Regions from separate parts of the Homo sapiens genome. Here all the other regions are linked to region 3. Evidence: fine-mapped expression QTL. A gene starts in region 3. Each other region holds a variant in brackets. All regions are shown on one strand. Distances are between the middles of the regions.

Region 1 (10,679 bases), 43 kb after region 3:
CCAGTCTCTTTGCTAAGGCATACCTAGAGTGACCTTTACTCCAGTTCCAAGAAGTTCCTCATCTCCATCTGAGACCACCTCAGCCTGAACTTTATTGTCCATATCACTATCAGCATTTTGGCCAAAACCATTCAACAAGTCTTTAGGAAGTTCCAAACTTTCCTACATCTTTCTATCTTCTTTTGAGCCCTCCAAACTGATCCAACCTCTGCCTGTTACCCAGTTCCAAAGTTTCTTCCACATTTTGGGTTATCTTTACGGCAGCACCCCACTCTCTGAGCTACCAATTTACTGTATTAGTCCATTTTCATGCTGCTATAAAGAACTCCCTGTGACTGGGTAATTTATTAAGGAAAGAGGTTTAATTAACTCACAATTCTGCATGGCTGGGGAGGTCTCAGGAAACTTAAAATCATGGCAGAAGGAGAAGCAAACACTTCCTTCTTCCCATGGCAGCAGGAGAGAGAAGTGCAGAGTGAAGTGGGGAAAAACCCCTTATAAAGTGATCAGATCTCATGAGAACTTACTCACTATCATGAGAACAGCATGAGGGAACAACCTCCATGATCTAATCACCTCCCATGAGGGTCCCTCCCCCAACACATAGGGGTTACAATTCGGATTACAATTCAAGATGAGATTTTGGGTGGGGACACAGCCAAACCATATCACTATCCATCAGCATGGAATGTTTATTCATTCGTTTGTGTCATTTCTTATTTCTTCAAGCAGTGTTTGTAATTCTCCTCTTGAAGATCTTTCACCTCCCTGGTTAGCTGTATTACTAGGTATTTTATTCTTTTTGTGGCAATTGTAAATGGGATTGCTTTCCTGATTTGGCTCTTGGCTTGGATGTTGTTGGTGTATGAGAATGCTACTGACTTTTATACATTGATTTTATATCCTGAAACTTTGCTGAAGTTGTTTCTAAGATCAAGGAGCTTTTGGGTAGAGACTAGGGGCTTTTCAAGATATAAAATCATATTGTCTGTAAACAGAGATAGCTTGACTTCCTCTCTTCTTATTTGGATACCTTTTATTTATTTCTCCTGACTAAATTGCTCTGGCCAGAACTTCCAGTACTATGTTGAATAAGAGGACTGAGAGAGAACATCCTTGTCTTGTTCCAGTTTTCAAAAGGAATGCTTCCAGCTTTTGCCCATTCAATATGATGTTGGTTGGGGGTTTGCTGTTGATGGCTCTTAGCATTTTGAAGTATGTTCCTTCAACACCTAGTTTATTGAGAGTTTTTAACATAAAGCGATGTTGGATTTTATCAAAAGCCTTTTCTGCATCTATTGAGATAATCATGGTTTTTGGTTTTTGTTCTGTTTATGCTGATTAGTCACATTTATTGATTTGCATATGTTAATCACCCTTGCATCCCAGGGATAAAGCCTACTTGATAATGGTGGTTAGGTTTTTGATGTACTGTTGGATTCAGTTTTCTAGTGTTTTATTGAGAATTTTTGCATCTATGTTCATCAAGAATATTGGCGTGAAGTTTTCTCTTTTTGTTGTGTCTCTGCCAGGTTTTGGTATCAGGATGATGCTGATCTCATAGAATGAGTTTTTTGGAATAGTTTCAGTAGGAATAGTACTAGCTCTTCTTTACACATCTGGTAAAATTTGGCTGCATCTGGTCCTGGACATTTTTTGGTTGGTAGGCTTTTTATTACTGCTTCCATTTTGAAACTCATTACTGGTCTGTTCAGGGATTCAATTTCTTCCTGGTTCAGTCTTCAGAGGTTGTCTATGTCCAGGAATTTGTCGATTCTTCTGGATTTTCTAGTTTGTGTGCATAGAGGTGTTTATAGTGGTCTCTGAGGGTTTTTGTATTTCTGCAGGATAAGTGATAACGTCCCCTTTGTCATTTCTAATTGTTTTTATTTGGATCTTCGCTCTTTTTTTCATTATTATTCTGGATACTAGTCTATTTTTCTTATTAGTTTTTTCAAAGAACGAACTCCTGGATTCATTGTTTTTTTGTATGGTTTTTCACATTTCCTTCAATTCAGCTCTGATTTTGGTTATTTCTTGTCTTTTGCTAGCTTTGGGGTTGGTTTGCTCTTATTTCTGTAGTTCCTGTAGTTGTAATGTTACGTTGTTAATTTTAGATCTTTCTAACTTTTTGATGTGAGTGTTTAGTGCTATAAACTTCCCTCATAACACTGCCTTAGCTGTGTCTGAGAGATTCTGGTACGTTGTATCTCTGTTCTCATTTATTTAAAAAATTTATTGATGTCTGACCTAATTTTACTGTTTATCCAAAAGTCATTCAGGAGCAGATTGTTCAATTTCCATGTAATTGTATACTTTTGAGTGATTTTCTTAGTATTTATTTCTATTTTTATTGCACTATGGTCTGAGTGTGTGGTTGGTATGATTTTGGGTTTTTATTTTAATTTGCTGAGGATAGTTTTATTTCCAATCGCGTAGTCTATTTTAGAGTATGTGTCATGTTCAGGTGAGAATGTATAGTCTATTGTTTTTGGGTGGAGAGTTCTGTGGATGTCTATCAGGTCATTTGATCAAGTGCCAACTTCACATCCTGAATATCTTTGTTAATTTTCTGCCTTTATGACCTGTCTAATACTGTGATAGGGGAACTGGAGTCTACCACTATTATAGTCTGTGAATGTAAGTCTCTCCATAGGTCTCTAACAACTTGCTTTATGAGTCTGTATGCTCCTGTATTGGGTGCATATATATTTAGGATAGTTAGGTCTTCTTGCAGAATTGAACCCTTTACCATTATGTAATGCCCTTCTTTTCTTTCTTTATCTTTGTTGGTTTAAAGTCTGTTTTGTCTGAAATTAGGATAGCAACTCCTGCTTTTTTCTGTTTTCCATTTGCTTAGTATATTTTTCTCCATCCTTTTATTTTCAGCATATAGGTGTCTGCATGTGAAATGGGTCTCCTGGAGACCATATATCATTGGGCCTTGCTTCTTTATCCAGCTTGCCACTCTGTGCCCTTTAATTGAGGCATTTAGCCCATTTACATTCAAGGTCACTATTGATATATGTGGATTTGATCCTGTCATTGTGCTGTTAGCTGGTTACTACACAGGCTTGTTTGTGTGGTTGCTTTATAATGTCACTGGTCTGTGTACTTAAGTGTATTTTTGTAGTGGCTGGTAATGGTCTTTTCTTTCCATATTTAGTACTCCTTTTAGGACCTCTCATAAAGTAGGCCTGGTGGTAACCAATTCCCTCAGCATTTGCTTGTCTGAGAAGAATCTTACTTCTCCTTCACTTATGAAGCTTAGTTTGGTTGGATATCAAATTCTTCATTGAAAATTATTTTATTTAAGAATGCTGAATATAGGCCCCCAATCTCTTCTGGCGTGTAGGGTTTCTGCTGAAAGGTCTGCTGTTAGTTTAACAAGATTCTTTTGGTAGGTGACCTGCCCCTTCTCTCTAGCTGCCTTTAACATTTTTTCTATCATTTCAACCTTGGAGAATCTGATGATTATGTGTCTTGGGGATGGTCTTCTCATGTAGTAGCTCACAGGAGTTTTCTGAATTCCCTGAATTTGAATGTTGGCCTCTCTAACAAGGTTGGGATAGCCTAGCTAGACGATATCCTGAAATATGTTTTCCAAGTTGTTTGCTTTCTCCCCATCTCTTTCAGGGATGCCAATGAGTCACAGGTTTGGTCTCTTTACATAATCTCATATTACTCAAAGGTTTTGTTCATTCTTTTTTATTCTTTTTTCTTGTTTTTGTCTGACTGAGTTATTTCAGAGAGCTGGTCTTCAAGCACTGAGATGCTTTTCTCAGCTTGGTCTAGTCTTCTGTTAATAATTGTGATTGCATTATGAAATTCTTGTCATGTGTTTTTCAGCTCTATCTGATCAATTTGGTTCTTTTTTATAATGGCCATTTCACCTATCAGTTCCTGTATCATTTTATTATAATCCTTACATTTCTTGGATTGGGTTTTTACTTTTTCCTGAATCTCAATGATCTTTCTTCCTATTCATATTCTGAATTCTATTTCCATCATTTCCATCAGCAAGCCTAGTTAAGAATGCTTGCTGGAGAACTAGTGCATTCATTTGGAGGAAAGAAGACACTCTGGCTTTTTGAGTTGCCAGAGTTCTTACACTGGTTCTTTCTCAACTGTGTGCACTGGTGTTCCTTTAACTGCAATGTATATTGAGTACAGCCAATTGACTTCTTTTCTGGATGTTTTCAGAGGCCCAAGTCTTTGTGCAGGGTCTTTATTTGTAGCTGAATTCTTGTCACTGGTTTCACAAGAGGGTATATTAGCTAAGTGTTATTGGTGTTGAAGTTTTGGACTGTCATCCAATAGGTGGTGCTTAAGTGTAATGGCTGGTAGGTAGGCTCTTGCTTAGCCACATGATTTCTCTGTATTTCCTCAGGATTGCAGCTGGGCTCCCTCTCAGTGCTGTGAATGGGTGGTCTCCTCTCCCACTTGAGTGCTGGCTGCATATCTCGGCTTGGCACTCCTGGGCTGCACATTACAATTCTGGGGTGAGTTCAAACTTTCTGTACCCTCTCAAGCTTGGAGGCAGCAGGTGAAGGGACCTTAGCAGTGGCTGTGGCAGAGTGTCTTTCACTTGTCTTTTGACAAGAGGCTCACACCTCTTTCTGATGTGGAGCCACTATCAATCGGTGTGATCAGCCCAGGATGGGGCCACCACACTTTGGACCCAAGGGCAAGGGGAGGCCCTGGTAGTGATGAGCAGGGAGAGCAGGTGGGTCCTGGAGGGATACAGACTGGCCTCTTCTCCTTAGGGCAACTTCAGCTTACCAAAGGTGTGGTTGAAGCACTCAGGGTCTCTGCTCCTTCCTTAGTCTGAGGGAAGCAAGAGAAGTACCACAGCAGCGGCAGTGGCAAAGGGCCTTTCAGTTATCTCTGGGAATTCTACCTCAGAGAAGCAGAACCACTGCCAATGGGAGTATTCAGCCAGGGGGTGGGTTGGCTGCACTGCTGGCATGAGTTGGGCACTCCACTTGGTGAAGAGGGGGTGGAAGGCTCACAGGGAGGAGAGACTGGGCTTTTCTTCCGATGGTGACTGTGGTGTGCTGAAAGTGCAGGTGAAGCCCTCAGGCTCTTTGTTTCTTCCCCAGATGGAGGGCAGCAGAGGCAGAACCATTGCTATGGCAGAGGGGTGTTGGTTCCCTCTGGGAGCCCCTCCTCTGGGAAACTCAGAGCCACTCCCAGTGGGCATCCTTAGCTGTGGTTGGGGCGACTGATCTGCAGTCCTGACCCAGGGGCCCTACCTGGTGAAGAGTTGAGGGTGGGGGTTCACAGAGAAGAGAGACAGGACTCTGTATGGGGGCTACACAGTGCAGGAGGTGCTAGCACAGGAACTAAGCCCTTTGTTCCTTCCTTAGCCTGAGGGTGGTTAGGGTGGTACCACTACAGGTGCAATGGTGGAGGGGTTGTGGGTTGACTCCAGGATTTCCTCCTTAGACAAATGCAGAGCTGCTGCTGACTGAAGTGCCCAGGCAGGGCAGAGTAGTTATGCGGGAGTCCCAGGTCAGGAGGCCCTGCCCAGTGAGGAGAAGCAGGGACAGGGACCAAGTGAAGAACAGTCCAGATGAGAGGTGAAGCCAGCTGGACTTCCTGGGTCAAGTGGGGATTTGAAGAACTTTTCTGTCTTACAAGAGGATTGTAAAATGCACCAATCTGCATTCTGTAGTTAGGATTGTAAAATACACCAATCAGCGCTCTGTAGCTAGCTAGAGGTTTGTAAAATAGACCAATCAGCACTCTGTAAAATGGACCAATCAGCAGGACAAGGGCGGGGACAAATAAGGGAATACAAGCTGGCCACCCCAGCCAGCAGCGGCACCCACTCAGGTCCCCTTCCATGCTGTGGAAGCTTTGTCCTTTCACTCTTCACAATAAATCTTGCTGCTGCTCACTCTTTGGGTCCATGCCATCTTTAAGAGCTATAACACTCACTGC[G/A]AAGGTCCACGGCTCCATTCTTGAAGTCAGCGAGACCACGAATGAACCCATGGGAAGGAACCAACTCCAGACACACAGACACTTTTCTGTGAAGCAGTTGTGCTGCACTGGGGATCCATGCCAGTTCCTAATCACCGTGCACCCTCCAGCACCTGAGGGCAAAAGCAGCAAGGGCTGTGAGACAGCAAAAACGGCAGCCATCTTCTCCTTCTGGGAGCTCTGTCCCAGGGGAGTGCAAAGCTGGTACCAGCCCTAGAGCCCTGGTAGGGGGTGGCTGGAGTCCCAGGTCAGGAGGCCCCGACCAGTGACGAGAAGCGGTATTGGGGACCCATGTGGAAAACAGTCCGGCCACTTTTCCATGTGGTGGCTGCACTGTGCTAGAGTCCGTGCTAGTCCCTAATCACCAAGCACTTTCCAGAGCCTGAAGGCAAGAGCAGCAAGGGCTGTGAGACAGCCAAGATGGCAGCCTGCCTTGCCCCCTTGGAGCTTCCTCCCAGGAAGTGCAGAAGATTATATTTCAAATGACTACACAATAGTGATAATGCAAGGTGGGGGAACTGCTTCATTTCAACAGTGTTATTCTCCTTAGAAGAAAAGCCTGTAAATATATGTATCAGAAAAAGTTTCTAATTTTTAGAGTAGGTTTTTAATACTCTTTTATATCTCTTGTCTCCTTGAAAATATTTTAAACACTCAGTAGTCCCAAGTGGAAAGTTATTAGGAGTCACGTAGTTCTTGCAAAGGAAGTCACAGATTGAAAATAAGGAGAATCCCGCCAGGTGCAGTGGCTCACGCGTGTAATCCCAGCACTTTGAGAGGCCTAGGCGGATGGATCACTTGATGTCAGGAGTTTGAGACCAGCCTGAACAAGATGGTGAAACCCCGTCTCTACTAAAAATACAAAAAATTAGCAGGGTGTGGTGGTGGGTGCCTGTAATCCCAGCTACTGGGGAGGCTGAGGCCAGAGAATGGCTTGAACCCAAGAGGCGGAGGTTGCAGTGAGCCAAGATCACGTGACTGCACTCCAGCCTGGGCGACAAAGTGAGACTCCATTTCAATTAAAAAAAAAAAATAGTAAATACATAAATAATAAACTAAAGACAGGCCAGGCGCAGTGGCTCACGCCTGTAATCCCAGCACTTTGGGAGACCAAGGCAGAAAGATCATGAGGTCAGGAGTTCGAGACCAGCCTGGCCAATATAGTGAAACCCTGTCTCTACTAAAAATACAAAAATTAGCTGGGCATGGTGGCACGTGCCTCTAGTCTCAGATACTCGGCAGGCTGAGGCAGAAGAATTACTTGAACCCAGGAGGCAGAGGTTGCAGTGAGCCGAGATCTCACCGCTGCACTCCAGCCTGGGCAACAGAGTGAGACTGTCTCAATAATAATAATAATAATAATAATCATCATCATCATCATCCTGGCGCGGTGGCTCATACCTGTAATCCCAACACTTTGGGAGGCCGAGGCGGGTGGATCACGAGGTCAGGAGTTCAAGACCAGCCTGGCCAAGATGGTGAAATCCCGTCTCTACTAAAAATACAAAAATTAGCCAGGCGTGGTGGCGCATGCCTGTAGTTCCAGCTACTCAGGAGGCTGAGGCAGGAGAATCACTTGAACCCAGGAGGCAGAGGTTGCGATGAGCCAAGATCGCACCATTGCACTCCAGCCTGGGCAACAAGAGCGAAACTCCTTCTTAAAAGAATAATAATAATAAATAAACTAAGGAGAATCCCCCAAACTAAGGAAAGGGACCAGAAATGTTTCTTTCTTGAAATTTATGGTAAACATAATAAAAATAATGAGATGAGCCATCAGTAAAATAAGTTCACCCCAAATGATAATTAGTTCAAGTATTGTCAAAAAATTCAAGTGTTTCCCAATTTTTTTCCTGGAGTTCACATTATTTCACTAAAATTTCACCAGAAAAACATTAGTATAGAATATTGAGAGCAGTACTGTTCAATACAACTTTCTGTGATGATAGAAGTGCACTGTAATCTGTACTGTTCAATATGGTACCTACTAGCTACATATGGGTATTGAGCACTTGAATGTAGCTAGCAACTAAAGAGCTAAATTTCTTTAAAATGTTAATTAATTTAAATTTAAATTATAGCATGTGGCTAGTAGCTACCATTTCGAACAATGCTATTTAATAGCTGAATACTCACAGAGTTGGGCTCAAACTGCTGAGGTTCAAACTCTGGTTTCACATTTCACTACTTTGTTATTCTTCTCCTGTTGTTGGGTTGATGTCAAGATTCAGTGTGTTAAATTATATGTTAAATAAATCTTAGCAATTGTTATTATTATATACCAGTTACACAATTTACCAGCCACATGCTCAAGTTACCTAACCTCACAAAACCAATTTCACCCACTAATAATACTATTGTATGGGATTTTTATGAGAATTAAATGAACTAATGTGTAAAATTGCTTAGTATATGCCCATCACATGGAAGCACTCAATACCTGTTAAATGCTATTATTAAATTATTATCAAAACAATGTTGAAACAAATTTTTGTAACTTGCAGGAAATACTGGGAAAATATACTGAAGTTATAATGATTTATAGGTGAGCAAATAATTTTGAGTCAAGTCAAATTTGTTCAACAGTAAAATTTTAAAAATTGCAAACCTTGAGTGATTCCATCAAGATTTATAGAGCACGTGGGATTCATCTTAATTAACACAGTCTGCCAACTTTTCTTTTCCTCAGCTGAAGCCTTAACAAAAATAAATCTATATGAATATGTATTTACCTTGTCTTTCTTATTATGGTTTTACTCTCTTCTTATTTTCGGTACCTGGTAGCACAAGAAAGTTAGTTAGAACAAATATATCACTGCCGGGCGCGGTGGCTCACACCTGTAATCCCAGCACTTTCGGAGGCCGAGGCGGGCAGATCACGAGGTCAGGAGATCGAGATCACCCTGGCTAACATGGTGAGACCCCGTCTCTAGTAAAAAATACAAAAAATTAGCTGGGCATGGAGGCACGTGCCTGTAATCCCAGCTACTCGGGAGGCTGAGGCAGGAAAATCGCTTGAACCCAGGAGGCAGAGGTTGCAGTGAGCCGAGATGGTGCCACTGCACTCCAGCCTGGCGACAGAGCAAGACTCCATCTCAAAAAAAAAAAAAAAAAAAAAAAAGAACAAATATATCACTGCAGGAAATCCTGTTTCCAATTATTTCAAGATATGCTGAGCCCATCAATGGTATACCCAAGCTCTAAAAACAACATATTTATAGCCACAATTTTACACATTTCAAATGATTTCTTAATGTGAAATTCAAATAAACTAGTAACTCCTACATACATATTAACTCCTTTTCTATTTATATCTTAAATGTGGTTCCAAATGAAAAACATGTAGAATCTAAGAGTTTGGGGAATTTGTTAACATGTTACAAAAATGTTTCTGCAAATTTACAGAAATTTATGAAGTCTGGAAAGTCTGAATTAGACTGCTGTTGGTGGTGACTTAAAACGATTTTATTTTATAAATGGACTTACTGTGCTCTTTTCATCATTTTTCTGGCATCTTAACAGCAGACAAGGAAAGTTCTTGTTTTTCCAGCAGCGTCTGCTTGGTAAAGTCTAAGTAGGTCAGAGGAAGAAGCAAAACGTTTTTATTTCAGCGAGAAATTAAAAACTCAGAACCTACTTTATATTTAAAGTTGCTTTCACTAGTGTAGTTGCCTAAAAGCAAGCAAGTAGCAGGTCCTTGCTCCCAGATGCCTGCTCGCAGATCATGAAAAGAAAACAAACCTTCAGGGTTTGAAGTGTAAATTTTCTGGAATATTTTGTACTAAATTGCCAATGTGATATCAAAGACATGGCGAAGTGTAGTTACTCTGCCATGGCTGCCCCATCAGCAGGCTCCCTTTAATGAGCAGTTAGTTCTAATTAATAGCTTACCTCTGGCAGAGAATGTAATTTCACTTTGGGTCATTTTCAAGCACAGACTAGAGTAAGAGTAAGGCAGTCAAAGAAAGAAGGAGAGAAATGGTATGAGGGTTGGAATTATATTTAGAGACAGCAGGAAGATGATCACTATCTGGTTTTCCCAAATCTTCACAAATTGGATTACAGTGTCTGGAGCTGTCTTTCAGAAGGGCACAGATTACATTGTGCAGAATTATCTGCAAGGGATAATTCTTCTGTTGATCTGAACTTTCAGCTAACGCCAGTGTCTGATGGTAAAGATTTTGATAGTGACATTTAAACACTTAGTATGCTAACATGTATAACCCAGCTGGTAACTGAAGTTTCCCTATTCCTTGAGTTGTAGCTAAAATTGCCCTGATCTGTGCAAGTCCAAAGCCCATCCTAGGACTCAGATGATTTCCACATCTACAAGTGTGTCTTTAATTCACTAGGCATCAATTTTAACAAAAAATCCAAGCCTTTTATCAACTTTCAATTCCCCCCCAAATAAAAGTCCACTCCCAGAGAACACTCATGATTAATAGAACCGACTGAGGTTTCAGTGGTGGGGTACCTATATAAGGAAAGGTCACCTCTCACCTCATTCCACAAACAACTTTAAAAAATTATCATTACCTTCTTGTGCTTTCAAGTCATCTGCAGCAACTGCCACCAGGCAAGGTGGGCCTGTAGGCTCGAGGTGACTAGGGGACACTGACAAAAGAGACCCTGCCACAGGGTGAGAAGCAAATGACAAGTGGCCCCAGGTGAGACTTATGACTTCCCAATAGCAC
Region 2 (10,679 bases), 72 kb before region 3:
AGAAGTGGGTAGTCAACTGGAAAAGAAAAGTTAGATCTATACCTCACACCCTATTCCAGGATAAAATACAAATGGATCAAGTATTTTACTGTAAGTTAAGAATCAAAAGAAAACAAGGGAGAATTATGACCTCAGATTGGCCTTTTTATTAAGATTCAAAATATGAAGGGTTCCTAAAATCAATACAAAAAGGCCAACAACACAACAGCAAAAAAATGACCAAAATACATGAGCAGGCAGGCCACTAAAAGGAAGTAAAAATGGCTCTTAAATATATGAAAAATTCCCTGACTTCACTCTCATAACAAAATAAATGCAAATTGTAAAAAAAAAAAAAAAAAAAAAAAAGGATGCTATTTTAACCTATAAGATCGGCAAAAATTCCAAAGTTCAATTAAAGATATACTAGCAAGTCTGTGGAATATGCACTATTATGAATTGCTGATAAGAGTATAAATTTGTACAATCCCATTGGAGGCTAATTTGACAATAGCTATCAAAATTTTTACCCAGCAGTTCTACTTCTAGGAATTTATCATAGAGATAAAGATGGAGTGTATGCTGCTTTTTAATACAAAAATGAAATATGTACAATGTTGTTCACTGCAGCCTTGCCATAATAGCAGAAGGTTGGAAACAATCTATGTCCATTAAAAGGTTAAAGACATTACAGAATTTCCACAGAATAGAACACTATGCAGCTGTGAAGAATAGCCAGGAAGCTCTTTGGAATGGTCTCCATGGCATACTGCTCAGTGAAAAAGGCAAGTTCCAGAACACTTGCTAAAGGACAATATGATTCATTTTTAAAAGGATGTAGAAAAAATACATATTCATGTATCCTTATATAGAATTGCTTGTAAGGATATGTAAGAAAAGAATAGTATTGATTACCTAGTGGGAAGGAGAAAGGAAATTAGGCAGATGGGAGACAGGGATAGGAGAGAAACTTCACTAAATATCTTTTTTATACATTGTTAATTTTTGGAACTGTATAAATTTAGTATTATGAAATATAAATTAATCAATCTTAAAAACATAAAGTGTGTTGTTACAGTGTCTACATTTCACTACTGACTCATTGTTTATAGGGAACATACTTTGGATTGCAACCAACCATGTGGATTTGCAAGACATTTACAAGACAGTTGATTGAAATTGGGGATTTAGCAGCCACAGAACAAAGTTGCATTAATTATCCCAGCCCCTGAAGATACCAAACCCAGCAACTTGACCTCATTAACAAAAGGCATTAATTCCTTAGTTAACTGGTCCTAAATGATGTCTGCTGCTCTTTGTTGAAGGCATTATCCCATTATTCCGGTAGTACAGTAGTATATCATTATTCTACTATGCTGTTAGAAAATGCAATGGCACCTTGCAATAAATTCTATACATACCATTTTTTTTCCAAACATTTGTTTCAGCTTAGCCTCATTCAATATTAAGTCATATTTGTTATAATTTTAAAAACAAAGTCATGTACACAACAAAAACAGAAAAAATATCTGTATAACCATCTGCACTCAGATAGTCAAAGATCTCTAATTCTGAAGTGAATATTTAGTCACCATACTTTGATTTTAGTTGTGAATGTCTTCATGTGAATGTTTTTATGATAAACTACATTTCATCACATTTCAAAACAATTTAAATTTATATAAATACTATGACGGATTGAACTCAGGTTGAACTCATATTTACATAAGCTAGTTTTTTTAACATTCATCATCAATATGGCCTTACTATATTAGGAAGATACGACAATTAACATCTTATAAACTAATGGCATAAGCATTCTTGTTAACTTGGTAATTTAAGTGTCATATCACTATAATTCTGGAGGCTGGCAATGAGAACAGACTGTCTAAATGTGCCACATTTCTGAAGATATGAGATGAAGATTATAAATTAAAGTGTGGCTTTTACACTGATAGTAAAAGCTAAACTTGTTTGTACATTCTAGCATGAAGCCACACCAACTTTTAATGTTGCTTCGAGGACTAAGACCAGTGTCTTTGTTGTGATACTGTCTTTTGGTTATCAGTCAGAGAAAAACAAGTTTTAAGATGAGCTCCAAAACAGAGCCTATTCTGCAAACTGCTACTCCACAGCAAACCATGTATACAGGTTGGTTCTATCGACAAGGTTAATCTATTACTTCAAACCCTGATCATGTCTTATTTTGAGATGTACAAAAACCAGCTTAGGGAACTAAAGGTCCAGCTTTGTTAGCCTCCTCAGTCAAAAAATATGCATAAAGAGCTTGTAAAATAAGCTTTAGGTAAGGTATAAAGAAAAATACACAGCTTCAGCAGAAAAACAGCTCATTATGAACGAGTGGAAATTCTCATTGCTCTATAGTTGCTATTTATTTCATTTATTCATGAGCTATAATTGATGCTCTATCTCCATGTAAACAGATTATCACTGAGAAAGGTGTTAGTCATAATTATGACATGTGTGTTTTCTCAAACCTTCATTTACATATTGCAGTGTCTGTTTGATTCACACTAAAATATCTAAAAATATACAGCCTTACTCAAAGGGACTTAAAATTAATCCAAACTGTGAATATTTAAAACTAATATTTATGACACAAAAGACCAATGTAATACCAAGCAAAGTGAATATAAGGCCAGTTAGATATCTCTCAGGTTTTAAGCCTGGGCCCTAACATTTTGTATAATATTGTGTAAAGCATGTCAGTGAAAAACAGAAAAATTATAGATATAACCTAAGCTTTGACTATGATTTGAGGCATATTTCTACTAGTTCCTATTGAAAATGTTCTACTGTGTTCTTCAGAGTATTTTCTAGGAGAAAAACAGTGACTAAGACATAGGCTGAACTGTTCAAGCATTCATAATAAAACTTGTTTGTTATTTATGCAGCAGTTTCTCTGGAAAAAGGCTCTCAAAGTGACCATATGGTAGAGCAAGATTCATACCATCCCTTCTTTACCAGGGATGGGGAAAAAAGCCAGCAAGCAATACTGAAATATATCTCTCCTCTAATTGACTGAAAATTTAAGTTTCAAATTGGTGGAATGTTTATGCTCAGGGAAATTTCAGCTGTAACCCCTTGGATATTACAAAGCTATATGTTTTCTAATAAATACTCCTGTTAATGTATGTGGTGGGACAAGAAGAATCAAATCCAGCTACCTAAAATCATACATTTCCAAAAGTATGACAGTGTTAATTGATTTTAAAAATTTAATTACCGCTCCCTACCTCCACCCCAAATTCTCAGAAGTTAAACTAAGAGAAGATACAGCTTTAAAGGAATCTGATAACGAGAAAGGGATGGAGGAGGGTAGGGAGAAAAAAAATCCTTTGGAAAAGGGAAAAGAATTGTATCACTTCATGTTATAGATTATGTCATGAATACTGAAGAAAAATTAAGAGGAAATACCTCACATGATCAAGCTATACTTGACAAACGAACTTAGTGCTAGAGCCATTTCCCAGGTTCCAAATATAGAAATTTACTTTTGTTTCTTTCAAACTGAGGTTCATCTGCTAGAGCCAACCCAACCCAGCCTAGCCACAATTCACTGTTGCTAAAGCTTCCCCAAACTATTCACCATTGTTTCCAGTGGTTCTCAACCCTGGCTGCACATTAAAATCACCTGGAGAATATTTTAAAATCCCAATGCCCAAGCCAATAAAATCAGAATCTCTGAGAATGGGATCCAGATATCAGTGGTTTTAAGCTCCTCAGGCAATTCCAGTGTGCAGGCAAGGCTGACAAAGGCAGCTTTAGACTGTCCTAGCTTAGCTTTCATTTTTTAAAGAAGAGTTCTGTTACTAGCTCAAACAAAGTTAAGCTCTGCCCCAAGGAGACTTCCTGTTAACCAAAGAAAATAGGGCTGTGATGTCTATAGGCCCTATAAGTCATTCCCTTTCAGTAGGAAAATGGGCGATTGCTCCACACCAGGTGCAGCAGAACCACCAGGAGGGCCTGTTAAACTAGACAGCTAGACCTCGACCCCAGAGTTTCTGATTCAGTGGACTCAGTGTGGACCAGCGAATTTGCATTCCTAACAAGGTCCCTGGTGACTCCGCTGCTCCGGGGACTGCTCTCTCAGAACCACTCCCTAAAGTGAACTCAGAAAAGGCCAGGTCGTCATGATCCACCCGCTTTTGCACAACAGATCCAATGAAGTCAACAATCTACCTAAGGCTGTAGAGTTTCTTAGAAATTATTTACAGAGTGAATTGAGACTAACCATAGAGAGAGCACCTAAGGCATGAGCTCCTGAACTAGTAAAGCTGGACAAAGATGAATAGGTATGTGACTCTTTCAAAGAAAATGTTCAGTTCTCTTTAAGAAAAACTCTACCCTCAGTCTGTACTCTATTTGATTTTGTCTAGCCTCCCAAAGCTTTGAATTCATGCCAGCCTTATAAGAGGTCTCAGTTAGACCCCATTTTTTTAACATGAAGCTCTGAACACGCCAAAAAAAAATGTAATTAAATAAATTGTTCCAGCTGAAGGTCTAGTTAGCCAACTGCATCAGCAGTTCATTTATAGATCCAAAAAGGCAGCTTGCTTGCCATCTGACCATTCATACCACAGTATTTATCCCTAATTGGAGCACCGCAGTACTTAAAAAAAAAAAAAACAACCCTCTCTTGTTTCTGATGCCACGTCTTTCTGAAGTTCTCCAGAAAGCTGTCAGTCACTCATCATGACATAGAAACTACTCACTTTATTTAGTCCTCTCTGTAAATTATCCAGGGCACATACACCCCAAGCTGATATACTTACTCCCCTCAACTAGCAAACTCCAAATGAGACAGCCAGTTCTTCCACCAGTCCTGCTGAGTACCTAACACACTCATAGCCCCATTTTTCTGCAAAATCCTGGATGCAAGGGCTTAACTTGCTTTAAATAAAAGTGGAAGAAACAAGCTATCTTACATACTAAAGAAGGAATTAGATTGTACTTCAGAGCTGAAAAAAAAATCCATCAAAACTAAATATCCAATGTCATGTTTTAAAAGAGGGAGGCAGCTCTAATGCATATTTTTCTTACATCCTGTTAACAAATTTTATTAGTTTAAATAACAAATACAAATATCCTAAGGATGGTTGCCATGTTAGAGGAACTCAACAATGACTTTAGGGTCTCAAAAAATAAATAAATAAATAAAAAATAGCTGAATGATCGTTTACCAGATCCCATTATCTTTGTTTTGAACCATGATTGAGGTAGAGTATAATAGAAAAAGATCAGTCCTAAAAGACACGGGACTTTAATTCTAGTATTTGGTCTACTGTTGTGGTAGAGCAGGGTCAAGGGAATATTATATAACAGTTTTTGAATCTTCACCGTCACTATTGAAAAGAGAATAATACATCTTATCTCACTGGATATTCAGAAATTGGTAAAACATAAATTCCTCGAGCTTGATACAGATTATACATCTGAAAAAGGTTGTGTTCTTTGGTTCCACATGGGCAAGATGACTTACCTTTAGGTCCCCTCAAACCAAGAGCACCAGGGGGCCCCTTAATGCCCGGAAGGCCACGAATTCCCATCTGGCCTGGGAAACCATTCTCTCCAGGAGGGCCGGGGGGACCAGGAGGGCCAGGCCTTCCAGGAAGCCCAGTGGCACCTGAGTCTGGACGCTTAAGACTGGCAGCCATCTCAGCAAAATGTTCTAAAAGAGAATAAACAAAACAACCCAGAAGTGTCAGAAACATAAAAGTTATTCTAATGAAAAGAGAGGTATTCCAAATGCCTTTTTTTCTAAATGTGTCACCAGATCTTCAAAATTGGTAGTAAGAAATGAATAAAGTTGGATAATTTCTCTGTGGGCTTTCTGCCAGAAAGCTTCGCTGGTGC[T/G]GTTTGATGCAGCTCTCCCTGGATATATTTGGTCCTGTTGTTCTGAGACAGAGTCAGGGCACGGGGAGGGAGGTAGCAGGGGGTGGGATTCACAAAAATCTTAAACTACAGGCTTTGGGGTGAACGATGTTCTGGAAGGATGTCACCTGAATCCCTGCTGGGTATCTGAAAACCCAGGATGGGAAGAAAAATGAGTTTCTTAACATATGTGGAAGCAGATGTCCAGACAGTTTTTAAAAGCCAAGAACATTGTCCAGAATTAATATTCAGACACCATTTGAGACCTCGCCTCACATTCTTAGTTTGAAGATATTATATAAACTGAAATATCCCCAGGAGTCACAGCTTCTTATAAACCCTCCTTCTCAGAAGTTTTTTCCACGCTTGAAATAGACAACAAACATTAAAAATAACTTGTTTCTTGGGAATGGTCAGAGTTAGTCTTAAAAATTAATAACTGTGTGGGCTTTTTCAGGAACCATTAAATAGATTCAGAATCACCCACTAAAGGCATGGCCTACAACAAAATCTCCCCATGAAAACATTCTAAGGGAAATATTCTCATGTAATATTTTTTAAACTTAGAGGGTAAAGGAGAATATGAAATGGAAACAAATTTCTACCCAACATTTTTAAATTGTTTAAATGTGAGTATTTTAAATTTGCTTATATAAGTAAGAGTTTGCATGGAATAATAATTTTTTAGATATGTTTAAAACTAAAATAGACTTTCAGGACAAAATGTCTGCAATGAAGAGGCCTATATTGCTTTTCAAATATAGAAGTGAATGTTTCATTCCTATTTGGTTCTGGAAAACTTCTCAAGTCTCCTAGACAAACTAGACTGTCTAGTGAACATACAAAAGAGTATCTCTTCATGACAAAGTTAGCTACACCAGAATACTGTAACTAGCTATGGGCTTCAGTGTTACAGAACTCCTCAGCTATAGGGTGCTTTTGCACATCTTCATTTTCTGTGTGTTTTTATAACTAGACCAATTCTGAAACAAATAACAATTGCCATAGCTACAGGTAAATTTTGATAAGGGTTAACAAGTATGAAAATGTGTCATAATTTTGGTAAATGCTGGTTATTGATTGTTTTTACATATGTGTACATGAATGGCGATAATGTCCTTATGCTTCCTATGGGCATGGAGTCTGTCATTTACTTCTCACAAAATGTAGAGAAAGCCTAGGTCAGTGCTAGGTACACACTAAGTGGTAGGGTCTTAAGGAGGGGAGAGACAACTAAGAATTTGTGTTCCAAAGGAAAAAAGTGTGTGTGTGTGTGTGTGTGTGCACTTTGTTATAAATTAGCCCCCATGGCAAAAAAACAAAACAAAACAAAAAAAAGGCAGGATAACCAGAAAAGTAATATTTTACATTGAGGCTACGGGCTGTATACTATTGTGGATGCCAATAGTTGGAAAAACAGAATTGGCATTAATATTACCCTAAATGTCCTATCTTTAAGGCACACAAAAAGTCACTCTTGTTTACCCTTGTGTATCTACAAGAATAAAATCTTAAGAAACAAGAGTTGATGGTGGAAAAAGTCAAACCATTGTGATTTATTTACCTTGTATGACTCTCATGCAAACCTGCTTAATGTGCTGATCTGTCGGTGCTCTACCCTGGGACAGAAAAGAAAAAAAGGCAGTTTATGCATGAAACCATAAAGAGAACATTGTTAAGTTGTAAACTGACAGACTCTGCAAGGAGCCAGGTGGCTGGATTTACAAGAGAACTTGTTGAGAAGCTGATGCCTAGAACAGCCCTGCTGCTGTGGGATGGAGTCTCCAAAGGGAAACCACAGAAGCTGCCCACCACTCACCGGAGGGCCCTGGACACCAGGCAGGCCGGTGGCACCCTGTTCTCCCTGCACACCCCGGGGTCCAGGTGGTCCTCTTGGTCCTTCCACTCCAGGAAGCCCCCGACTTCCCTCAGGCCCTCTCAAGCCAGGTTCCCCAGGATTACCTGCCTGGAACACAATTGCACACTATCAAACCAGGGCTAAGCATAAAGAATGTGCCTGCTTCATACTCATATAAACACTTATATGAAATTTGCGGTTTCCTGCACTCTGCATCCTAACAGGTGTTCTTTCAGAGGTTACAAAACCTTCACTGCAAGGTGAAGACACATAATGCTACACAACTTACCCATCTTTTAGAAATCTAGTTCAAGTTAACTTTCAATATATCTTTCTTTTGGCTGGGTGTGGTGGCTTACACCTATAATCCCAGCGCTTGTAGGAGGCCCATGTGGGTGGATCATGAGGTCAAGAGTTTGAGACCAGGCTGGCCAATATGGTGAAACCCTGTCTCTACTAAAAATACAAAAATTAGCCAGGCATGGTGGTGCATGCCTGTTGTCCCACCTACTTGGGAAGCTGAGGCAGGAGAATCGCTTGAACCCAGGAGGTGGAGGTTGCAGTAAGCGGAGATCGTGCCACTGTACTCCAGCCTGGGCAACATAGTAAGACTCCGTCTCAAAAATTATAATAATAATAATAATAATCTTTCTTTCGGGGATAGTTATTCTTGCAAAACGTTTATTGGAATACTACATTTTTTAAAAACTACATTCTTCATACTTTAAGCCACTCTCTAAGAGGAACTTAGTTTTCAATAAGCTTGTTAACATTTTCTGGCTACATAAAAGCCCCTGCATTCCTACAAAATATGTTACTTTGCATATCACAAATGCAGCAAGCATAAAATAAAGATATTTCCAAGAACATAAGTTATTTAGCCCTTACAACTTTTTTTTTTAGAGAATGTGAAGATGCCAGGTATATCCAGGAATTACTAAACTAAATCAATGCACTTAAAATACCACATTTAAAATGCTGCATTTAAAATACTTGACCAGGCCAGGTGCGGTGGCTCACGCCTGTAATCCCAGCACTTTGGGAGGCCCAGGTGGGCGGATCACGAGGTCAGGAGATCGAGACCATCCTGGCTAACACGGTGAAACCCCTTCTCTACTAAAAATACCAAAAATTAGCCGGCGTAGTGGTGGATGCCTGTAGTCCCAGCTACTCAGGAGGCTGAGGCAGGAGAAAGCCATGAACCCAGGAGGCAGAGTTTGCAGCCAGCCGAGATCGCACCACTGCACTCCAGCCTGGGTGACAGAGCGAGACTCCATCTCAAAAAAAAAAAAAAAAAAAAAAAAAAAAACTTGACCAAAGAAAGTTACAACTTACTTAAGTATGAAGGAAGTTAAAAAATCTAAATATTGAAGAAGTTAAAAGTAAACCATGTGTTTCCTTAGCATAAAAGCAAATACAAGTTAGATTTTTTTTTAGCTGAAAGCAGACCACTAAAAGCATTTAAAAGAATCATCTAAGATAAATGTTTTAAAAAGAGACCAAATTAATTCACTTTTTGTTAAACTAAAAATTTGTTAAATTCCTCTGGTAAAATTTGTGGCAGAATAGCTCCAATGTACTGCTGCTGTTCAGAATAAGAATGAGAAGATAAAAGAACACGAGGCAGCAAGGGAATGCTAGTGTTCAAGATATGAATGTTTATAAAGCAATTTAATCCTGCTTCTTTTTCATATGCATCATTTATCTAGAAAAAGCTGGCTCTTTCAAACAAATACTTTAAACTGAAGAAGGCGATGAAGCAATGCTTTTACTAGATACATCCAAATAAAGCTCAGCAAATGTGCTTTTCCAATTTCGCTTTATGCAAAAGAAATTGATATTCATCTAAGTCAACTTGCCAAAATTGCTTCTATGAAGAAATTATGGTTTAAAGACTTCCTGAAAGACTGTCAGCAGGACAAGGAAAAGGTATCCTACATAGAAGGCTGCAACATTGTCAGGTGCCTAGGGTGCAAAACTGTAACAACTTCTTTTTTTTTTTTTTTGAGATGGAGTTTTGCTCTTGTTGCCCAGGCTGGAGTGCAATGGCGTGATCTCGGCTCACCACAACCTCCACCTCCCAGGTTCAAGCGATTCTCCTGCCTCAGCCTCCAGAGTAGCTAGGATTACAGGCGTGCGCCATGACACCTGGCTAACTTTTTGTATTTTTAGTAAAGATGAGGTTTCTCCATGTTGGTCAGGCTGGTCTCAAACTCCTGACCTTGGATGATCTGCCCACCTCGGCCTCCCAAAGTGCTGGGATTACAGGCATGAGCCACCTTGCCCTGCCAACAACTTCTAAAAGAACCCAGAAGAGAAGACAAAATGAACTCAGAAATATACTGAAGAACTGACAGAAAACAAAGGAGACCACGACAGAGTGTATAATCCTGCTGATAATGACTGAAATACTGCTACAGTAAGAGCTGGGAACTTCCTAATGAAGAGATTAAGGGCCAATATGGCCAGGACCCTGGGTCTCTGGGAAAAAATTCCTCAACTGAGGAGTGGTATACTGAAACAGAAATCAGGTTACAGACATCGCCTACTTCACAACTTTGTCTATGCTGAAATCAATGAAGAAAGTGTAAGTCTTTGTGTTAGTAACAATTTCCCCTGATTGTGGGACAGTAGACTTCAATTTCACTCATATTACCTGGGCAGTGTCAGGTAAGACACTTGTGGGGAAGGAGATGAATCAAGAGCTAATTCCTAATACTATATGCAAATTTGAATGCAATTAACTTATTCTTGTCACTGCATGGTTCATTAACTTTTCTTTTGTTACAGCTTGAATTCTTTCTATTGAACATTACTATTTCTAGATAGTGAAGTAGGATTTCTATTACCAAACTCAATCAAGGTTTACTCTAAATTTTTCTCAATCCTCAACCATTTCTGTTAAAAATTCTTAGGCATAAAAATGTTACTTGAAACTTGAGACATA
Region 3 (10,679 bases):
ATCAGGTCAGCACTGAGGACCTCATGTTTTGCTTAATTATTTAAGAAAGAAAAAACTGAATTTTTAAAGCTTATTTAGCAACACGACTGGCACTTCCATACATGAAAAGAAATTATGAGGAAAAAAAAGTGAATTCACTGTTATCATGGTTTTAATCTTTCCAGATGTGAATGGTTTTCCAGAGTCAGTATGGAGTAGTGGTTAGAAGTAAAACCTTTGCAACCATTCTGCCTGGGATTCAGTCCTTCCAGCACATTCCAACCCACTCACCTTATGCAAGTAAATTAAACTTTTGGGGATCCCTGATTTAAGAAAAAAAAGGTTAATAATGACCCTATATCACAGGGTTGTGATGAGAATGAAATTAATGTTAATTAGTAAATTTATAGAAAGAGCTCATATAATGTACTATTGTTGTATTATACAATAATATATAGTAGGTTCAAAATATGAATTTCTAGCTGTAATCTGGTACTATTATATCAGATTCTTCTAATTTGTTCAAAATTTTTATTTTTATATACATTGAGTTTCTATATTATCTTATTGTTCTAATTAATCATTATTTATCTTTATAACTTAATTTCTATTGAAGTCCTAATTGTCTCATTTATCTACTAAAGGAATTTTAATTCTAGTTTTTTTATAGTGTGCTAAAGCATATAATAATTATCATAATCATAAATAAGGTATTTAGGTGATATCAAAACTAAATTGCTGAGATTCATTCATAATGATGACAGGACTCAACACTTACACACTAAAGTACCTCAGTTTTAAATAAAGAGCAAAAGGCTTAGTTCCAGAGAAAGAAATCAGTGAAGTGGAGGATTTGATGTCGTTAGTATTACTATCATTGTTTCTATTATAATTATTTTAGTTTTGCTTTGGTTTGATGTCTGCCAGAAGCCAAGCAGTGGACGTGTGGCTCCATTTCAGCACCAGGACACTTGAACAGCACCATTGTGAGTCTTCTAACCACTCTGTGGCTCCTAGTTAAATTTATGCTTACCCTCTGGCACTTTTCACAGAGGGTCCTTTCAGTCAAAACCAGACAAATTATAGAAAAACAGAAAGCAAGGTAATAAGAACATGTCCTGAATCAATGTATAATAGTCTCAGTGATGCTTTTTCCTGGAATGGAAAGTAAATTACATACTGAAAACATGAAATGCAGTATTAAGGTACTGAAGATAGGCAGGTAAATAAATTTCTTCATCTTTAAATACAATTATAATCCAAGAAACATTGATCATAAGAAAACTCTAACATTGGATAGCTATCCATTTTTAATGCATTTGAGTCAGATAATTAGATTAAAATATTTTTGATAGATTACCTAGTTGGAATCCTGAAGTCTACATTATTTCCCAACTTGTAAGCCACCTGCAATGTAGCTGATCCCACTACTCTCTGGATAGCTCTTCTAGATGCTGCTTTATCTACCTGGAACTGAGAGATCAGATCAAACCCTATAGAATGGGAATACAAAATGAAAAGTCTAAAATGAGATTGGTTTTATTTCTTTCCACAACTTTCCCAAATAAAAAAAAAAATCAGGTTTATAGAAAGCATGCATTTTCAATAGGGTACATTGCTACTCACCTGGTAAGTCATCTTGGCCAATCCTGATCTTTGGACAGAGTTCATTTCCACCATTAGAATTGGAATTGACAGGGAATCCTGCAAAAGAGATAGCATGTCATTCTACTTCATCCACTCTAACTTAAAGTATAATAATAATAAAATAAAATAAAATAATAATAATAATAATAAAATTTAGAACCAGAAAATAGCAATTGACCACAAAAAAAAGATTTCAGGATGTATCAATAATAATAAATATTTAAAATTCAATATTATACCAGCTTGCTTAGAGGTAAAGTGTTTGGCTTTACCTCCATGCCTCTACGATTATAATCTGTCCACCTGCAACTCATCCTGGAAGGGGTGGATGCAAGGCACAAAGTTGCTCTAATAATCTGGCTGGGAAAATGTTCGTTTTGAAGAGGTTAGGCATTTGTTCCTTTTGAAACCAAAGCTGAATGGTGTCCTGAATGGCACAGGGTCAGAAATCTGTTTGGAAAATTCCTGGTGGTTTGGGCTAGAAAATGTTCCTTAAACACCACAAATTTTAGGATTCCAGTGAGATTCCAGAGCCAACCTTGGTCCAGTTCAGTGGGGCTTCTGGAGAGTAGAGTTCTTAGGAATCTTTGTCAGATATAGGGGCCTGGGGAAGTCTTGAGATTCACTAATCCTAAATAAAATATAGAGGATGGATTTGATTTCATAAATTCGTTCTAAGAGATCAAATAAAAGTCCCGACTAGATTAATCCTAACATCTTAGAACTGGGAAGAGTAAAAAGAAGAAGAAAATAATCATGAGAAGGATTAAATCCTCAATTTGATAAGAAATCATAGAATGGAATTGTGTTCTCCTTACACAAATGGAAGGTCAAAGGGAAGAGAGATTTTTCACCACCACAGAAGGCTTCTTGGAAATATCCAACCTCAGTGCCTTGCTAAGATTCATCTGACAACAGAGACTCTCTAGACTTCAAAAAAAGTATTATTCAGTTACAAAGCATAGGCCCGGCGCTGTGGCTCACGCCTGTAATCCCAGCACTTTGGGAGGCTGAGGCAGGTAGATCACCTGAGGTCAGGTGTTCAAGACCAGCCTGACCAACATGGTGAAAGCCCGTCTCTACTAAAAATATAAAAAATTAGCCAGGCATGCTGGCACATGCCTGTAGTCCCAGCTACTTCGGAGGCTGAGGCAGAAGAATCACTTGAACCTGGGAGGCGGAGGTTGCAGTGAGCCGAGATTGTGTCATTGCATTCCAGCCTAGGTGACAGAGTGAGACTTCATCTCAAAAAAATAAAAATATAAATATAAAAAAGCATGGGCCTAACCATAATGGTACATCAAACATGCTCTTTATACTCTCCTCACCCCAAATTGTTGAGGTCCATCCATCCATCAGTCTATTTATTCATTCATCCATGTATTCACCCAACATTTACCAATCACCATCTGTACTAGGCACTGCACTAGGCACTGCAGCTCACAGATTGGCCTTCCTACCAACTGTGATTACTGACAGGACTTACTTTCCATACCCAGCATTGACCATGGAAAACCAGAACCTAATGTATCCCTGTGCCCCAAAGCTGGATTGAAGAGTGAGGGTGTGAAGGACTATGAATGCCTCACTCAGTCTTCAGTCAGCCACAGCCCTGCCTGATCATTTCTGGGAATAAGTGATCTTTGAAAGTCTAGAAACTATGGCCCTTACTGGGGCGACGCTTGACAGCTGCAGATGCCCAGGGTTCCAGGAAACTGCACACAAAGAAGAAAACTGGAATTTTCCTGAAGAAGAGAGAAGAAAAATGACTGAAACAGGAGTCCCCGCAGATGGAAAACACTTCCATATTTTCAAACCTAGTAAACCTAATTAATGTAAGGTGATCAAATCACAGTATAGTTTTTTTTTCATTTCTTTTTTTTTTTTTTTTTTTTTTTGAGACGGAGTCTCGCTCTGTCACCCAGGCTGGAGTGCAATGGCGCGATCTCGGCTCTTTGCAACCTCCACCTCCTGGGTTCAAACGATTCTCCTGCCTCAGCCTCCTGAGTAACTGGGATTACAGGCACGTGCCACCACACCCAGTTACTTTTTCTATTTTTAGTGGAGACAGGGTTTCACCATGGTGGTCAGTCTGGTCTTGAACTCCTGACCTCGTGATTCGCCCGCCTCGGCCTCCCAAAGTGCTGGGATTACAAGCATAAGCCACCGCACCCAGCCTTCATTTTTACTTTGAAACCCTACTGAGAGATGTAAGGAACTCATGTTTCCAGACCCCACTGTCGTTGTTGTTTTATTGATCTCACCTTCTCGGTATCTACCTATCTCACTGTTTTGGTACCTATTTCTTTGTCTCTGGTTTCTTTCACCTTTGATTTCCTTCCTCTCTTTTTCTGTGGCCGTCACTTTCTCTCCCTTCCTCTGTCTGTCTTCGGTTTTTTGTGTCTGTCTTCGGTTTCTCACGCTTGCCCTCTTGTCTTACTCTCTCATCCGTCTCTCTTTCTGTCTCTCACCTTGAGGCTCACCTACTCTCATCTTACCACTGCTGCAAAAATACAGACCCTTGGTTCTGAGGACCCCCAGCTCCATCTCCCCACCACTCTTTCCAGGGTTATTGTCTTACCAGCAGGTCTTCATTTTCCCAGTTGATTTTCTTTGTTTGCCAACAGTCCCTATGAAGAAGGGGTTGGAAGGGAGTCACTGTCCCCTCACGACCCCTTCACTGTTACCCTAGGACTATGTGTTCTGGGCCCAGCCTTGGTCCCTCCTGCCCCCGGTGAGGGCTAAAAGCAAAGGGAGAGAACCAGAGGCATCTCGTGACACTTTAAACTGAAGCAAAGGAAAGGGGTGGGGAGAAGCAGCGCTCTGAGCCCAGGCCTAGGGGTGTGTCCTCAAAGCTAACAAGGTTATACTGAAGGAGGGATTTACAGGGGAAAGTTTGCTGAAAAGAAAAAAATAAAATCAGGATGTGGGGAAATTCACCAGAAAGATCCAGGCAAGGTGCTATAGGAACACAGTAGATGCTTTTAGATCTGCTATAGGAGTACAATGGCAGCTTTCAGAACTGCTATAGGAATACAGTGGAAGCTTTCAGAGGGCTGAGGTTCCAGTAAAAATGTGCCCACTGGGAGGCAGAGGTGTGGAAACTCGTGGGAGCCTTGGTGCCCGATCAACCTAAGTTTCAATCCCTGTTTATTCTGAAGCTTACTAGCTGTGTGTCCTTGAGAGAGTTACTTCACCTTTCTGTAACTAGATGCCCTAACTGTAAAACAGATTGAAAATGCTTACATTAAAACAATGGTTTTGAGAATTAAATGAGGTATCAAAGGCAGAGGGTCTAACACCCAACAATCATTATTTGTCATCGTCTTCATAGCTAACGCTTCATTATGCACCTCCGTCTGTTGAAAATGCTCAAAGCTTAATGCCATTTAATTCTCACAACAACATTATAAGGTAAGACTGAAGTTACCCTTATTCTCCAAATAAGAAAGTTGAGGAAGCAGAAAATGAAGTAACTTTTTCAAAGTGCCATGCCTATTACTAAATACACATTCCCTCTCTCTACCTCATGGATAGAAATCCTGATAAAATGTAACATCAAGCCCCCTACTTGTTGTTTATTCTTAAACTCTGAGACTACCAGAGTTGAGCAGAGGACACTGTATCTGGAAAGAAGCAACATATTATCCTCCGTTAACAAGGTGAGAGCAAATTACAAGGAGCACAAACCTAGAGAGAGGCATGTTATCAGCATCGCTACCACACATGCCATGCCGTCTCTCCAGAACCTGAGCACCTAAAGAGAATTCCCTATAGCCCCCACATCACCCCCGTTACCACCCACTCAGCATGGCCAACCTCTGGCCTTGTCTTGAGGGACACGGGTGGTTACTCCAAAAACCAAGACTCTAAAGGTCAGAAGATCCAATGATCTCAAAAATCACAGTACAAGCAAAGTAATTTTTAGGTGAACTTTTTTTTTTTAAGAGACAGGGTCTCAGGTCTCGCTCTGTCCCCCAAGCTGGAGTACAGTGGCATAATCATAGCTCACTACAGCCTTGAACTTCTGGGCTCAGGGGATTCTCCCACCTCAGCCTCCTGAGTAACTGGGATGATAGTCATGCACCACTGCACCTGGCTTCTTGAAATTTTTAAATTTCGTTTTCTAATTGATTTAATTTTTATTTAATTACAAAACAATAGCGTTGCTTCTTATTTTTCATTTGTTTATTTCTTTTCCAAAAAAGTCCTTTCAGTTTCTGCCTCCCCCAGCTCACTGATGAAATGTAAATCAGGCAAACTTAATATCCATGCTTTTGCCCTTTTATTTTCTACTCATAGCCCACCTGTTGGAGTCCTGTCTCTCTTTCCCAGAGGGACACCCATTTCCTCATGCTGTTTGGGGCTTTCTACAAGTCCCTGTCATTTGCCTTCTGTCTATCAAAATTCCCATTCCCTAGTGCAGCCATCCTGGCTCTGTGACAGAACTACAAATGACCAGATCTTAGCTTATTTGTTTAAGTCAGTCAGGGCTCATGAGAAAGAAGCGGTCTATTAACCTCAGAGGAGAAACTGCAGCTGGGGACCTTCCTGACATCCTGAAGTCACAGGAGGTAAGCCAGCCAGAGATTCACAGGGGAAAAGGCATTTTCCAAAGGGACTGTCCATTGAAGCTATTTATTTGCATGATTGATCCTCTCATATTACTTACTCTGGTAAGAAAGGAGAGAGGGATTTTTCATTATAATGAAGTGTTTGGGAAATCCTTTCATTGCTTTAGAGATCTCAATTCCGCATTTGCCCCTCTCCTTCCCACTGTAATGAATCCTCTTCAAGTAGAATTTGAAATCAAGTGAGGGTGCCTTTTAATTAAAAATGAAAGGATAGAGAGAAAAATAGGTTTGCTTATAGGTGGTGTGGCTTTTTTCTAGCTTGGCAGTTTTATTTAAGATGGTAGGAGCAAGCAAGAGCTATTTTAAGAAAGAAAGTAGGCTGGGCACAGTGGCTCACGCCTGTAATCCCAGCACTTTGGGAGGCCAAGGTGGGTAGATCACCTGAGGTCAGGAGTTCGAGACCAGCCTGGCCAACATGGTGAAACCCCATCTCTACTAAAATACAAAAATTAGCCAGGCCTGGTGGCACGCGCCTGTAGTCCCAGCTACTCGGGAGGCTGAGGCAGGAGAATCGTTTGAACCCAGGAGGCGGAAGTTGCAGTGAGCCGAGATCACACCACCGCACTCCAGCCTGGGTGACAGAGTGAGACTCCATCTCAAAAATAATAATACTAATAAAAAGAAAGAAAGTAAATCCAGGCCAGGCAGGGTGGCTCATGCCTGTAGTCCCAGCACTTTGGGAGGACAAAGGCAGGCGGATGACTTGCACTCAGGAATTGGAGACAAGCCTGGGCATCATGGTGAAACCCCATCTCTACAAAAAATACAAAAATTAGCCGGGCACAGTGATGCACACCTCCAGTCCCAGCTACTCAGGAGGCTGAGGCAGGAGGATCTCTTGGGCCTAAGGAGCTTGAGGCTGTAGTGAGCAGTGATTGCACTACTGCACTCCAGCCTAGGCAAGACAGTGAGGCCCTATGTCAAAAAAAAAAGAAAAGAAAAAACAAAAAACAAAAAAGAAAGTCGATCCAGAGAGAACAAAGATATATACAATATTATTTAAGGAAATTTTTTTTCCTCCCTCCACTCCCATTTTCTATTAATCTTGTTTCCTAACGCGACATTAGAATCTCACAGACAGCAGTGCAAATGCCACACTATTCTGGTCTGGGTCAGTTGCACCCTAAGGTCATAGACGCATAAGCTTTTTCACCCTTAGCATTATTTCCTCACCTTACCTAACAGTTTGGTTCTGAAAAACCATGTAGAAATGAAATGTGGTCAATCATATCAGATTATAAATGAACTAAGACAGCTTAATATTTAAAATGATCCATTTTATAAATAGAAGTGTTTTGTATAGAACAGTTATACTTTTCTTTGTACCTCCTCTCATCCCTCCCCCACATACTTTTTCACAGAATGCACACACACTAATCTCCTTCTTCTTATAAATCAAGAATATTATTTACTTAAAGCTTAAATCGGGGAACATCATCACAAATAATCATCTTTCTTGATCATCTGCTTTCTTCCCTTTGTTTATTCAATCATGTATTGAGTAACTATATACAGTAGTATATGTATCAAGTATGTGCTGGGAGGTGAGGAAGCAAAAAGTGTGAATAAACACAGCCTTGCCCTGAGGAAGCTGACAATCCAGCATGGAGGACCAATATGAAAGCGACCACAATTCAGAGAATAAGAAGGCTGTAGTGTCACTGAGAACAAGTATTAGCATAATCCAAGGGCATCGGGAAATTTTTAATACAAGAGATGAAATCGTGAAGGATACTAAGGCTACTAAGAGAATAAGTGGGTGCAGTATGTTTTAGACAGAGAAAACAGAAGATACTATAACAAAAAGGTAAAAGAGGACATTTGGGAAGCAAAGAATCCTTTCATTTGGTAAATATCTATTGATGCCTCTTCTACCATGCTCCCTGAGTGACCTTAACACCAGAGAGACAACCAGAGAAAGATCAGGTCCCTGCCCCTATGCAGCTTACACACTGGTGGGAAGAGAGGTACTAAACACATTTACAAGAATAGACAAAATAATTTCAGGTGGAAACATTATGAAAAATATAAAAGAAGACAATGTGTCATAGAGTCTGTAGAAGGTTTAGAAGCTGGTCTAGGTTGAGGGGTTAGGGAAGGCTGCTTTGAAGTCGTTAATTTTGACTCAGACCAGATGAGAATAAAGAGATAAGATTGGTGGGTAGATTGGAAAAGGGGTGGGGGACAGGAAAACTACCTGGTTTTGAGCTTGAGCAACTGAGTAGATGGTGATGTCACTTTCTGAAATCACAAGTAGGAGGACCACGGGGGAGGAGTTGGGTAAAGGATCTTGAATGACATCAAAAGAAAGCATAGACATTATTCTGGCTGTTATAGGAACTGAGAGAAGAGTTTGAGGCCAATAATGACTTTTTTGGATGTGTCTTTAGAAAGACAGTTCTGGTGTTGCTTGGAGGATGGATTGAATGGGCTTTATTACTACGTATACAGATACACAACCAGAACAAAAGTTTCAGAAAGCAATAGTTACTCATATAAATGTATTAAATTACTTTATAATCAGTGAAAGGTCAGTAAAATGTAGAATTATAAGTGCCTAGTGACTTAATAGGAGGAAATATGGAAGGTTAAGGAAGGAAGTAGGAACCTGGAATAAGAAAGCTAAGTTTCATTTATAGCTCCGATGAGTGACTTTCTTTGTTTTCACCATTGGGAATCTTAAATGAGGAAAGTGTCGTATCCCTTCCAGTTATCTTTATGTTAATAAACTAAGTGAAGATTGGACAGAACTAACAAAGGAATTAGTCTCCAATGGTGGACTTCCAGAGTTTTGAGATTAAACTTTGAGAGGTGAGAAGCCTTCCTGATGCCCCTGTAATCTTAAATTGGCAGGTGTCTCTAAGTGAGGCCATCCCTCTTTGCCTGCCTATCATTTTAATCTTTATACTGTAACTGGTTCCTTTCAACTCTGGCCTTTTATTGTAGCACTTTTATCAAGTCTGCAGCTTCCCAGCTACTTGGGAGGCTGAGGTGGGAAGAACACTTGAACCTAGGAGTTCAAGACCACTCTGGGCAACATAGTGAGTCCCTGTTTTTAGAAAAATAAATAACCTTTAGCTTTTTGCTATAGAAAATATCCAAATAGAGTCTGGACAATGCTGGATGTAAAGAAAACTGTGAAGCTACCTCTAAGCATATTGTTTGTAAATACTGTGTACCATTTAGAGGATAACATGGGGGATTCACATGAAGTTATGTGAAAATATTTTATAAGGAATAATACCTAAGTGCCTCTCTTACAGTTCTCCAGTAGAATGTATTTTCAATTTTTGCCACAAGGGGGAGAAGTTATTTTTATAGTAATATGTACATTTTTTTATTTTAAAAATAGAATTCACACAACTTTACAGCATCTATGAACATTTTGCTATCCTAATTATGTGTGTGTGTGCATGTGTGTAAACAAGATTCTGAAAGTCTTGCATGAGAAAAATTTCAAAGGAAATTAATAACAAAACCAAAACAGTTTTGAAGAATGTGCACAGTGGACACAGGAATTGAACAAAGTTTACCATGATTAAAATTATGTTTTCTTAGTTAAAAAATAAATAAATAAATGTAATATATTCTATTTTCTGTTTTATTATATTTCATTTTTGAGTGATGATAACCAAATCAGTGAGTACATTTCAGGACCAACTGATGGGTTACAACTCATGGCTTAAAAAACATTCGATTAGAAAAGAGTAGACACTAGAAGTGCCAAAGGATCTCTTTCCCCTTGTTTCCTGGTATGGGCACAATAGTTGGGATGCCCCATGAAACTCATAGAATAGTAGGGCAAGTTCCTTAGTTTTAACATGACTATATATATTTTTTAAAACATTCTTTTGAAGTAGCTGTAAATTGAGAGTTTTAATTAAACATACCACAACCCCCATATTTAATGAGTTCATAGGTTAAATTAAAGAAGAAGTATTTTTAAAACTAGCTTCCTAATGGTATTTAATTTTAAGCTTTATTCCATCTATCTTTACTTTAAAATAAAAGACCCAAGATGCCTAATGGCACCTACCAGTTGTGTGAGGATGCTGCAAATTAGTCACAGCTAGAGCCTGAAATTTATCACAGAAATCTCTGGCTGAGAGGCTGATTAACAATTAGAGTTGCTAAAACTAGGACTCCCACAGTTTTACATTGGGTTCAGTTTTACTGTAAAGAAATTTCACCATAATCAAAGCTCTATTTTTAATCTTCTTATTTTGGCCCAATACTTGTAATTGTAGCCTAATCATCTATAGCAAGCACATAGAGCCCATGGCCGTTTTTTCTCTGAAATCACTCACAAACAAATGTGTTCTCACCATAGAACATTAATACAAAAACAGGTCATTTAATGTAAAATTCCCCCACTCCTAAGCTTTTCAGCATATTACTTTTGCTCTCTCTAAAGTATGA

The links. PIP is the estimated chance that this variant, and not a neighbour inherited with it, causes the effect.
Region 1: its variant is fine-mapped to the expression of COL9A1 in testis (GTEx, PIP 0.93).
Region 2: its variant is fine-mapped to the expression of COL9A1 in esophagus muscle (GTEx, PIP 0.91).

What each region holds. Positions count from the first base shown.
Region 1 is chr6:70,342,172-70,352,850 of GRCh38, forward strand. It overlaps LOC105377848 (a long non-coding RNA gene), which reads right to left. Exons shown (of 4, transcript XR_942670.2): 2 at 9,472-9,555; 3 at 8,718-8,762; 4 at 3,699-6,098. Among named protein-coding and RNA genes, the nearest start is that of COL9A1, 44 kb to the left of the region's middle. The variant G/A (reference allele first, on the strand shown) is at 5,947.
Region 2 is chr6:70,227,101-70,237,779 of GRCh38, forward strand. It overlaps COL9A1 (collagen type IX alpha 1 chain), which reads right to left. Exons shown (of 38, transcript NM_001851.6): 34 at 7,694-7,840; 35 at 7,439-7,493; 36 at 5,483-5,671. Among named protein-coding and RNA genes, the nearest start is that of COL9A1, 71 kb to the right of the region's middle. The variant T/G (reference allele first, on the strand shown) is at 5,857.
Region 3 is chr6:70,298,704-70,309,382 of GRCh38, forward strand. It overlaps COL9A1 (collagen type IX alpha 1 chain), which reads right to left and starts at 4,381. Exons shown (of 38, transcript NM_001851.6): 1 at 4,208-4,381; 2 at 3,298-3,371; 3 at 1,606-1,683; 4 at 1,340-1,472. The coding sequence starts at 4,221.